Linked DNA regions of Homo sapiens: region 1 is linked to region 2. A link means that fine-mapping ties the variant in region 2 to the expression of a gene that starts in the linked region. Tissue or cell type: lung. Region 2 holds a variant in brackets; the other region holds the start of a gene. All regions are shown on one strand. Distances are from middle to middle.

The links. PIP is the estimated chance that this variant, and not a neighbour inherited with it, causes the effect.
Region 1: SYTL5 starts here. The variant in region 2 is the best candidate, but not a certain one, in a credible set for the expression of SYTL5 in lung (TOPMed, PIP 0.72).

What each region holds. Positions count from the first base shown.
Region 1 is chrX:38,003,721-38,010,381 of GRCh38, reverse strand. SYTL5 (synaptotagmin like 5) reads right to left here and starts at 3,829. Exons shown (of 17, transcript NM_138780.3): 1 at 3,714-3,829.
Region 2 is chrX:38,066,874-38,073,534 of GRCh38, reverse strand. SYTL5 (synaptotagmin like 5) reads right to left here. Exons shown (of 17, transcript NM_138780.3): 4 at 1,373-1,488. Among named protein-coding and RNA genes, the nearest start is that of MIR548AJ2, 46 kb to the right of the region's middle. The variant T/C (reference allele first, on the strand shown) is at 3,573.

The DNA of each region.
Region 1 (6,661 bases), 63 kb after region 2:
GTACATGTGTCCAGTCTGTAGCTCTGTGCTTGCATCCTTGCTGTACCTAATCCCCATCTGGTGGCTCAGTTCTAATACCTGGCTTTCACCTCGTAACCACACTTAGCCTCATAGGCCCCTACCACCTCTTCCACATTTGCAGAGCACTTACTATGAGCTAGGCACTATTTTAAGTATTTTACATTTACTAAACGTTCTAATCCTACAACACTCTTATCAGTAGAAACTATTGTTATCCCCAATTGACAGTGAGGAAACTCAGCAACAGGAAAGCTAACTAAGTTTTCTCAATTTCATGCAGCTGGTAAGTAGCAGAGCTGAGATTCAAACTCAGGTCATCTGACTGCAGAGTCAACACTCTCAACCCCTGCACAATATGATTTCAATAGTTAAGACCTGGGGTTTTGGTCTCTGCTACTGAGTTATTCTTCCAGCAACAAATCTTACTTTAATATCTATATAGTTCTTCATAGTTCAAAATGATTTCCTCTCCATGACTATATTTGTTCCTGTGGCCACTATATGAGATAGAATGAGTCTGAGGAAACTGTGGTTCACAGAGAGTGCACAGGGGGCAGTGAATGGTAGAATCAAAACTTAAACCTGGCTCTTTGGCTATGTTCTTTTCACTACCCCAATGATTCTGGGGCTTAGAAAAAGAAGATATCCATGAGGTGTGGACTTTCTGATGGAGATGGGGCCTGACCAAAACCTTGAATTGTAGGTAGCTCTTAGACTGAGGGAAAAAAGGATGAGAAAATAGAGAATAAAAGAAAAAAATAACAGAAAAGGGAGATGAGAGAGGATGGCTTCTAGATACATTATAATTAAAGAAATGAATGGACTTGGTAGTGGTTTGGATATTGAGAGCAAAGGAAAAGTTAGAAGCAAAATTGACTCCAAGATTTCAAATGTGAGAAACCAAGAGATCATTAATGCCATTCACAGAAACAAATGAAATGAAAGGGGAAGTGGTTTGACATAAAAGCTGTGAGTTTGGCTACAATCATGATGAATGTCGAGTGACCCTTGGACATACAAGTGGGAAAATGTATAGCAGATGGAAAAGATAAGATGTGGAAATGGAAGTCTTGGAGGTATCCACTTAGAGGTGATATTTAAAACTAAGGGTTGATAAGAAGTTATAGAGAAAGGCAAAACGTAATAGGTTATAGGCTAAATAAATGCTAAACCTTTGAGGGAAACCCAAACTTAAGGAAGAGAAAAGGAAAAATAGACAAGAAGGGAAGTGGTAGAAAAGCAGTTGAATAAATAGTATAGAGTCATGGACAAGAAGGAAAGAGAAAATTTAAGAAGTAGGAATTGATCATGTGTGTCACATAGAGCCAAGGGGATGAATAAAATGAGAATTTGGAAAAGTATTCCTTATAGCCCTTATCACACTTGTAATGAATTATTTGGGTGAGTTAACACCCTTCCTAACTAGACTGGAGATATATAAAGGCAGACTTAAGTGTTCCCTACTGTAACTTCAGTGCTCAGCAATGCCTGATGCATAGCTGTCACTAAATAAATATTTATTGAATGGATGAATGAATACATAAATAAATGAATGTACTTGAATTTCCTAGCAGCACTACAGGTGACCCTTGGAAGTACAGTGTCAATAAAGTGATGAAGATTGATTTTATGTCATAGGGGAATTTGAAAGAAAGATTTTAAAAGAGAAAGTGAGGCAGTAGGGTATGTTTTATTAATCACTTCTTAGAGAAATGTTTTTGTTAAAAGGAGAGAGAGACCAGATCAAGTGAATTTTTTATCCCAGTACACTACATGTTTATTATATTTTGTTCCTCTAGGAGCTCCTCCCTATTTTAGATAATCTTTCAGAACCTAAGGTAACCACAGCGGTTGCTAACTCTGCAAGTAACAGAAGCACCATCTGCTTTTTTGCTGTCTTCAGTAAAATCAAAAGTCCATGGGCTAAGCAAGATGGAAGATGTAGAGAAACAGAGGTCAAAGGAAATGATGATACTCCCCACAGAAAGAGATAACCAGGAATGGAACGAGGTTGGAGAGAAGTTTTGTGAAATCATGGAAAATGTGTGAATGTATATAGAGGGGTGAGAGAGAAAGAGGATGAGAGACCACAGACAAGTAAGATATGAATGTACAAAAGCATATTTACAAGTAGATTTTAAGTAGAATGTATTAAAGATGATTAGCTAAGTGCTTACGCAGGATGGCAAAATAGTCATAAGATACATCATCATATAATAGAGCTTAAGTAAAACGAACTGCTCATTTTACATATTAAAGCTACATTTCCTTTTCCTTCCCTTAACATACTAAATAATAATAAGGAAGTAATTTCAACAAAAATACTAAATGGGCCTCCAAAAGAAAAGAGGTAGAAGCTCAATAATTTTATTCACTAAACCTATCAGAAGACTTTAACAAATCTGAATAAATAGAAGGATAACATAGCTAATACCCAAACTTAAAATAGCAAAGAATTTCAGGAAATCATAAATACATAGAAAAAGCATGATTCAACAACTAAAAGAGCAGTAAGACATTTTCTCAGTTATTAGTTGCCCACATGTAAATATGCATGTATATGTGGGTATGTACATATATATACTGAGGGATGCAAGGACCAATTTAAGGATTTCACTAGAGTCCAAACAAATGGCTTCATGCATTTAAGACCTAGGGTATGAATTGTAACACTTTTGTGTGTAAGCTGTTGTCCAAATAACATATAAACAACTTATTACAAAATGAAAAAATTATATACTTAATTCCTGTGTTTAAAATACTTTTTAAGGAGGCTACTACTGAAGTAGTACTTCTAAATGCATTATTACATGTAAACAATATTTTATACTATTTTGAATGCTATAAATATATAACTCCTGTTTTCTCCAGGCATATGCTTTTCTCCAGGCATACACATATACTTGGAGCAAAGAGAAGTTATATATTAATAGTTGTAAAATTACGTTTTTCATTTAAATGAGGAAGACAGTATTGGTAATTAAAACAATCTACATTAAGGAGAAATTTTTTAAACCCTGATGCATCTTTTCAGAGTATATTAATGTTCACAGTTAATATCGCATTTCTGTAAGCTGTTACAGTATCATATTCATGTTGAAATTATTCCAGGTTTTTCAGACTTTATTAATCCTTCTACTGAATTTATATCCATACTGGATATTTGTCCATATCAAAAATGGAACTGAATGTAAAAACAATTAAATAATTCCAAATGAAACATCTAAATTTTCTAATAAATGAAAGAAATTCAGAGCAAAAGGACAATCTATGTTATATAGAGATGTGAGAGGTTTATATAGAGAGGTGTGAGAGATTTATAGCAAAATGATGCAACACTTCTGCTGTGAATTTGATTTTTTTATGTCACTAGAATGCATATTTGTTCCTGGAGGCACTCACTCTTCAGTAGAACCTAGTGCAATGCTTCACTTCATAGATAGAATCAAGTGTTAATAACAAAAAGATACTTATATTTCTCTCCTCAATCCATTAAACTCATAGCTACCAATGGCCAAAATGTCCCTTCTGTACATATTTCTCCCTTTTTTACTGTAAAATACAATATCAAATGGTGGAAGGAGCTGTTTTCTTCCTGACCAGCAAATCCCACTACTCCCCTACCACACACAAAATACAGAAATTAAGAAATCAGATATCACACTGGAGATCCCTAAACGCATTAGTCTTACCTTAATCTGAAGGTTAGAATGTTTTTATGGGCTTATTTTTCTCTCAAACACACAAACTGTAGAATGCTGGACTACTTGACCCTTGTGAACTACTTGGAGCAGGAACTTGAAAAACCAGCCTCTCATATTCCCACAATCTATTTACACATTGAACACACCCAGTAGCACAGAGTAATGTTTATCTGTTGCAGACAGCTATTTCAAGAAGAAGGCAGTATCTCTAAAGCTGAGCTTTCAAAAAGGAATGTCTCTGTTGATCAGCAGGGGAAAGGTAACAGGTTTCATCTAAAGCACATTTTAAACATTTTTTGACATGAGGTATTTTTTACACCAGTGTTTTAAAGGTGATTCACTCTTTTAATATTCTTCTACCCCTGAAAATCTCTATTCTTAAAAAACCTGGGAGAAACGTGATAACAATGAACACATATGTGCCAGGCACTGTTGTAAGTGCTTTACATATATCCTCTCCAATAATTCTCCAAATGTGTTAGGTGTATAATATTATTATCCCCATATTACAAATGAACAAACTAAGTAGTCTGCCCACAGTCACCCAGTTAGTAAGTACTGGAGTCAAAAGTTAAATCCAGGCACTCCATAACCATAGTCCAGGTATCTAATCATAGCACTGTGCTATGTATGTATGACTTTTAGAAGACAAATGTGTAACAGTATGTGATTGCTCAGCTGAACATTAGAGAATGAGTGAGGTTTTCTCAGTGCTTGTATGGTACTGAATCTTTAGTTGAAGTAAGTGAAATTTTTGTTAAGATCACTTCTGCCAAGGTGATTACCCATTTATGTTACCATAGCCAGGTCCCTTTTAGCTACAGTGGGGAACCCCAAAGGTGGTGTCCTGGAGAATCGAAAACGTGAGTCTAGCTTGAAGTACCAAGAGAGTTATTACTTTCTTATGTTAAAAAACTCATACAAAAGAAGTCAATACAACACCTTTAAAAAGTTTAGAGATACATGTTTTGTTCCATTTTTTTCAGATTGGATGATTACTTTTGATCTGTCTTCAAGCTCATTTGATGCTAGCCATCTCCAAACTAATGTGAGCCCATCTAGTGTGTTATTAATTTCAGTTACTATAATTTTTTAAGCTCTAAAATTTCCATGTGGTTATTTTTATAGTTTCCATTTCTCTGCTGAAATTCACTATCTGTACATTTATAAAGATCATATTTTCCTTTCATTCTTTGAACCTATTTTCTGTTTGTTCTTTGAATACATAATAATTGATTTAGTCTTTTTCTATGAAGTTTAACAACTGGACATTTTTGGGTCTGTTTCTACTGATTTTATGACAATAGGTGATATTTTCTTGTTTCTTTGCATGTTGAATTTTTTTATTGCATATTGGACAATGGGGATCATATAGTGTAAAGACTCTGCTATCTCCCTCTGAGGAGTATTAATATTTGTTCTATTAATATTGGCATTTCCATAGAATTGGTTTGGTTTTGCTAATGTAGTTATGCAGAAAGTCTAAGGTCCTTTCCAAGCCTGATGAATTTGGGAGATCAACCTACAAATTCTGTCTCCCCTGCAGATCTTGTAAGGGCTGAGTTTTAGGATTTTTTATTTGTAATTTTTATGGAAAAATAGTAGGTGTATATATTTATGAGTTACAGAGATATTTTGATACAGGCTTGCAATATATAAAGATCACATCAGGGTAAATGGGGTATCCATAGCCTCAAGCAATTATCCTTTGTGTTACAAACAATACAATCATACTGTCTTCATTATTTTAAAATGCACAATTAAATTATTATTTTTACTATAGTCACCCTGTTGTACTAAGAAATACTATGTCTTATTCATTCTTTCTATTTTTGTACCCATTAATCCTCCCTACTTCCCCCCAGCACCTCACTACCCTTCCCAGCCTCTGGTAACCATATTTCTACTCTCTATCTCCATGAGTTCAATTATTTTCATTTTCAGCTCCCACAAGTAAGTGAGAATATGCAAAATTTTTTTTCTGTGTCTGGCTTATTTGACTTAACATAATGACCTTCAGTTCCATCCATGTTGTTGCAAACGACAGAATCTCATTCTTCTTTATAGATGGTAGCACTCTATTGTGTATATGTACCACAGTTTCTTTATCCATTCATCTGTTGATGGACATTTATATTGCTTCCAAATTTTGTCTATTGTAAATAGTGCTGCAGTAAACATGGGAGTGCAGATATCTCTTGAATATACTGATTTCCTTTCTTTTGGGTATATACTCAGGAGTGGGATTGCTGGATCATATGGTAGCTCTATTTTGAATTTTTTGAGGAACCTACAAACGGTTCTCCATGCGATTGTACTATTTAAATCTAAGACCTCAAACTATGAAACAACAAAAACAAAACATTGGGAAACCTCTCTAGCACATTTGACTGGGCAAGGATTTATTGAGTAATACCCCACAAGCACAGGCAACCAAAACAAACAGTGACAAATGGGATCACATCAAGTTAAGAAGCTCCTGCATGGCAAGGAAACAATCAACAAAGTGAAGAGCCAACCTACAGAGCAGGAGAAAATATTTGCAAACTACCAATCTGACAAGGGATTAATAACCAGAATATATAAGGAGCTCGAATAACTCTATAGGGAAAAATATAATGATCTGATTTAAAAACTGGCAGGGGATCTCAATAGACATTTCTCAAAAGAAGACATACAAATGGCAAAAAGGCATATGAAAAGGTGCTAAATATCAGTGATCATCAGAGAAATGCAAATCAAAACTACAATGAGATGTCATCTTACTCCAGTTAAAATGGCTTATACCCAAAAGAGAAGCAATAACAAATGCTGGTGAGGATTTGGAGAAAAGGGAACACTTGTACACTGTTGGTGTGAATACAAATTAGTACAACCACTCTAGAGAACAGTTTGAAGGTTCCTTTAAAAACTCAAAATATGAACTTAAAGTAGTT
Region 2 (6,661 bases):
GCAAATTTATATTCTGCTTTCACTTTCCCAGATTAGCTCAGGGCAAGGAAGTCTATAATAATTGGCAATGCCATTCCCATCCCAAGTTTTTCTGTCACACAGTTAGTTCTAATTTGTTGAGTGTTCTAGAGTTAACTGAAGACAAAGATCCTGAACTCATCTGTGGGAGGTTTACTGAGATAACCTTCCTAGGGATGACTGCATCAGCCTTCTGTTGATATTTTTAGAGCAGGGGAACATGGTCTCCTAAGATCTCCAAATCCCTGGAGACTGAGTTCTAGCATGAGGTTGTAGAAATGATGTCCTAATTTCTGGGCATATAAGCCACACTTCCTGGGAGGGTGGGCATCTGTGCAAATATATTGTGACTTGAGGAACTGCCTACATTCTGGAAGGTACTGGGGTTTGAGTGGAAGAAGAGGCCATGGCTGATTGCCTAATTCTAACTGTACTCCACACCATCTCTCTGTAGTATCGGATCTGTGTGACCTATGTGGAAAAGCCTTTCCTTGCTAGTGCCACACCCAGAAGTACCACTGGAATCAGTTCCAAGCCTTCTCGCCATATGTGCCAGACTTAAATACAAGGGCACTTGTCTCCTCTGGATGAAAGATGAGATAAGCCTAGAAACAGGCTGAAAGATGTTTCTTCCGCTTTTACTACACCATATACGAGAAACATGCTCCCAATCACAAGGTTTACTCCATCTTTAATTAACTAAATTGTAATTTGAATGCACCAAAAGGCACTGTCAAGGTAAAGTGTTATTTTCATTTGGTGCCAGTATTCATTCAGTAAGACTATGCATTTCAAGCCATTTAGCATCTCTGGCTCCTTCCCACCAAATGCCATTGACTCACCAGTCACTGTGACAACCAGAAATGCCCCCCTTGCCTTTCCAAATGCTCCCATTTTGAGGGAGGGAGACAAGGTACATATTATCAATCTTTGATTGAGAACCACTGGATTTAAAAAGTAACATTGAAAGGAAATCGGAAATAAATATTGTTGAAAAATCAAGGATTGCTTTCACAATGTGAATCATTTAATTCATCTGTTTTATGTTACTTTAAGTGTTTAGTAAAATATTGGATGCATTCAGAAAGAGAACTGTCTATGATGGAGACAAATGGTTTCTTTGAAAATCTTAGTGGGTGAGATATATGGAAAATCATTGTGAATTTTGTTTTCTACTGACTTCTTCTTGTCTTGTATGAATTACGTATCTAGATTTCATGCTACCAAGTTGTGAAATGCCCTAAGGGATTCAAGAAACTCATTTATGCTGATTAACTACATAACATAGAGAAGTTATTTAGTTAGCCAAATGGAGATGAAAACAGTTGTGAAACCACATAATTGCTTTAATTACCTGGACTTCTTCTTAAAATGGACTGTCGGACAACATCAGTGCCGAGAACATTGACTTGCTTGAAACGTTTTGCCTTTTCTTCAAAAAACCACTCACCAGTTATAATCCTTAGCTGCCTACTCAAGGGAAAAGGGAAGAGCATTGAAATTCAATTATTTAGCCACATAATTAACTCTCAAAAATCCCTAATAAACTGAAAACAGCAAATTATTTATAAAGTTTATCTCAATCTCTGGAGTATTTTATGGTGATAATAATAGCCAGTATTAATTGAATGTTTACTATCTGCTAGGTACTTGCTAATTACGGTTCATACTTCATATATTTTTATCCACATAGCAACCTTATGTAAACACTATTATCCTAATGTTATAGATGAGGAAATTGGGACTTAGAGCAATAAAATAATGTGCCTCATATCACACAGCTGGTAAGTAGCAGAGCCAGGATCCCATCCCAATAAGTCTGACCTGGGGCTCAAGTTCTTAACCACTGCATTAGTGGATAAGTGATCTTCAATGCAAGCAATAGGGATCAAGTAAAGGTTTGGAATGAAAAAGAGGTCATGATCAGACTCTGTGATCAGACTTATGATCAGATCTCTGTGATGAAAAGATTCTTTGATATAACATGTACAGTGGGTTAGACTGATGAGAGAATAGGATAAAGAGACAGGTTGGCCATTGTAATAGTCCAGGAGACAGATGATGGCACCCATGCTAGGGCAATGGTAAGACTAAAAGAGGAGTAATAAATTCAGATCATAGGTGGTGGAAGTGCTTGCCTGGATTTGGTAATAAGTTCAATGTTAAAGATGGGAAAGAAGGATCCTTGAATAGTCACACCCATCTTTTAAACCCTACCTGCAATGGCTACATGAAATCACCCCCATCTTCCCTCCTGAAATGCTTATAATCCTCTTCTTTGTCTGTACTTCTCCCATTACTTATAGCGTCCTTCAGTATTATTTCTACCCTCTCATTTCGACTGGGTTGTAAATGCTCTGAGAACTGATTTCTGTCTGCTTCATCTTTTGTTTTCCATAGTACCTACAAGAAAGTCTTTCACAGACCACGATCTCAATTAATGTTTTTCAAATGAATGACTACTCTCTCATAATTTTAACACATTACCCTTCTTTTCATATTCTCATAGTTCTTATTATCATCAGTGAAATGAGGGCAGGGACCTTGGCTGTGTTGTTCACCATTTCCAGGAGCAGTAACTGGCACTCAGGAAATATTTGTGGAATGAATTAGAATACCTGGAATTCAACCTATAGTAGTTATGCTGCTATAAAAGTCCTTTTCTGGCATATCACAAGGATTTTAACAGCTGTAGAAGTCATTCGGTAGACTAAATATATTTCTAATTAAAAATTAAGAAATGGCTTTAGCTGATTAGGTGAGCACTATTGTCCCAAAACCTCTATGGGCATGTTCTGAAAATAGTAAATAGGACTATGTAACTACGGTAAAGGATTTGTGGAGAATTCTATTGAAAACTGGAGTTAAAAGGTAGGATTTGGGGTCAAATATTTGAATGCTGAGGTAAAGAGGTGGAATGTCATTCTAGCAGTTTTTCTAAAGTTCAGATTGAATCACATAATCTCTGGCTAAATATATGAAGAAGAGAGAAACCAGAGGTAGGCAGGCAAATTAGAAAGTTAAACAATAAAGAGGATAGAAAATGATGAAGATGCAAATCAGGGTATCATGGAGGTGAGGAGTAAAGGGAAAGACACATACACTTGGCCCACTGAGAATGAGAATCAGTAAGAATTGGTGACATGTCTGATATGGTGGCTGAGGAAAAGCAACTGAGAGTCAAATAGGCATTTCAAGCCCCAGAATATTATATCCATTTGATTCAGCAACTTATTGGACTTGAAAATCAATAGCTGGATCTCAAATAGAAAAGTCACTCTTGAAAAATATGTCAACCTTCTTCCCCAATTATCCTGAAATCTGCTTGTTCAGCAATTATCCTGAAATCTGCTTCGGAATCTGAGGCAAAGGTAAATTATATATGAAACACCATTCCACTACTGGCAAAAAGTGAAAATGTTAACCTTGGAGAAAAGTATTCATTGAAAGGTAAGACCATAGTTTGTCTACCATAGATTTACTCCCAAGTGGTTATATTACCTATTGAGAAGCCCAGACTATTGGATAAGCTCCATAACAGTAACTATATAAAA[T/C]ACGCTTATGGAATACGGTCAAATCTAAGATATAACCTACCAAAACCAAAAGCTTGAATGGGTTAAGTTATTTCTGGATACATTTCAAGTGATCTATAGACTTATGTATCACAGTGTTGGAAATCCAGGTGACAATTGTGGTATTCTAAATTCGAAAGATGTCTCCTGTTTCTTGGCTATTCAGTCAAACACTAATCCAGGTGCTGATGTGATCAGACATTACAGATGGAATTAGGTTACTAATTAGCTGACCTTAAAATAGTGAGATTATCCTAGATTATCCACATGGGCCCAAAGCAATCACATAAGCCCTTAAACACAAAGGAAGAAGAGGAAGTCAGTAAAGACAATGCAGAATGGAAAGTCAGATTGCAAATATGAGAAAGATTTTATGTGCTGAGAAAGCTCTGAGGTGTAGAGGTCCACAGGCAATGACTGGAAAGTGAGACCTCTATGAGCTAAGAATGGCTTTCCGTGAACAGTCAACAAGGAAATGAGCACCTCATTCTGACAGCCACAAGGAACTGGATTCTGTCCACAAGAATGAACTTGGAAGTGGATTCTTCCCAGAATCTCTTTATAGAAAAAAGAACTCAACTAGCCAACACCTTGATTTCAGCCTTACAGAACCTGGAGTAGAGAAACGAGTCAAACTCGTTTGAGCTCCAAAACTGTGAAATAATACATTTGCATTGTTTTAAACTGCTAAGCTGTAGTAATAGTTAAGGTGGCAATAGAAAACTACTATGATAAGTTAACATAGAAATATATTTGTTCTAATATTCAACTCAGGAAATTGCATAGGTTGTAAGAAGATGAATAAGGAAAATTCAGAAACAAAAGGGAAAAGGTAGGCACACTATGGCCCATGGGTCAAATTCACCCCATCATCTATTTTGTACAGCCTGCAAGCTAGAAATGATTGTTACATTTTTAAATGGTTGAAAAAAATCAAAATAAAAATACTTAATGACATGTGAAAAGTATATGAAATTCAAATTTCAGGGTCTATAAATAGGGTCTTCTAAAAAATAATTTCAACTTTTATTTTAGATTAATAGGGTACATGTACAGGTTTGTTACGTGGGTATATTGTGTGAGGCTGAGGGTTGGGGTATAAACGATCCCGTTGCCTAGGTACTGAACATAGTATCCAATAGGTAGTTTTTCAACCCTTGCCCCCACCCCCAGGAGTCCACAGTATCTATTGTTGCCATCTTTATCTCCATATGTACCCAATGTTTAGCTCCTACTTATAAGTTAGGACATGCAGTATTTGGTTTTCTATTCCTGCATTAATTCGCTTAGGATAATGGCCTCCAGCTGCATCAATGTTGCTGCAAAAGATATGATTTCATTATTTTTATGACTGCATAGTATTCCATGTTGTATATGTACCACAATTTCTTGATCCAATCTACTGTTGATGGGCACCTAGGTTAAGTCAATATCTTTGCTTTTGTGAATAGTGTAGCTGTGAATATATAAGTATATGTGCTTTTGTACAATGACTTTTTTCTCCTTTGGGTATATACCCAGTAATGGGATTGCTGGGTTGAATGGTATAATAGTTTTGTTTTTAGTTCTTTGAGAAATCTCCAAACTGTTTTCCACAGTGGCTGAACAAATTTACATTCCCACCAACAATGTATAAGCATTTCCTTTTCTCCACGACTCACCAGCATCTGTAATTTTTTGACTTTTTAATAATAACCATCTGACTGGTGTGAGATGGTATTTCATTGTGCTTCTGATTTGCATTTCTCTGATGATTAGTGATGAATATTTTTTTCATATGCTTGTTAGCTCCTTGTATATCTTCTTTTGAGATGGGTCTGTTCATGTCCTTTGCCCACTTTTAAATGGGATTATTTGCTTCTTTGCTTGTTAACTTTATTACAGATTATGGATATTAAACATTTGTTGGATGCATAGTTTCCAAATAGTTTCTCCCATTCTGTGGGTTGTCTGTTTGCTCTGTTAGTTTCTTTTGCTGTGTAAAATTTTTTAGATTAATTAGGTCTCATTTGTCAATTTTTGTTTTTATTGTAATTACTTTTGAGGAATTAGTAATAAATTATTTGCCAAGGCTGATATTCAAAATGATACTTCCTTGGTTTTCTTCTAGAATTTGTATAGCTTGAGGTCTTACACTTAAATATTTAATCAATCTTGAGTTAATTTTTGTATATAGTGAAAAATAGGGGTCTAGTTTCATTCTTCTGCATGTGGCTAGCCAGTTATTCCAGCACCATTTATTAAATAGGGAGTCCTTTATTCATTGATCATATAAATAAAGTTTTATTGAAAGATATCCATGCTCAATTGTTTATGTGTTGTCTTTGGCTGCTTTTGTGCTACAACTACAAAGCTAAGTGGTTGCAGCGGTAGACCACATAGCTCTCAAAGCCTAAAATATTTGCTCTCTGGTGTTTTATTACAAAAAAGAAGAGTTTTTAACTTTTGCAGGAGGCAAAGAGTACACAAAAAGAAATAAGAACAAGGGGGAATACTATAGTTCAGTGACTAAAAATTGCTAAATAGTGGCATGCCAAGGCCTTAGATCTTTTTTTTTTTTTTGATATGTTCTTTGGATGTGAGATGGAGTAGATAGCATACTGACAGCAGTTTCATGTGTGACAGAAGAAAGTGGACACATCCAGTCTACATTCTCCAGGAAATGGGCCTCCATATCACTTTTACCATGCATGCTTAGAGCTGCCAACACCTAACACAAATAAGATCTTCCCAGAATTGTTAGTCATTACCTCTTGCTACCCTTGGAGAATAATAACTATAAGTCTTGTATTTGTTCAACTCAGATAATGCACTTGAGTCATTTGTCATTTCAGAGAAAATACCAGAACAGATTGTTGAGATTATGCCTTTGTCACCCTCTCAGGTGTCACGTCTTGTCAGGAGGCAGACAGAAGGCTTGGTAGAACAGGAAACTAATACTTAGTGAGTGCATGTCAGTCACCAAGTAATAGGCTAGTCACTTTATATACGGTATCTCTAATTCTCACTATAAGCAATGAAGTATCTATTACCATTACCAATTTACAGACAAGGAAACTAAAGCTCACATA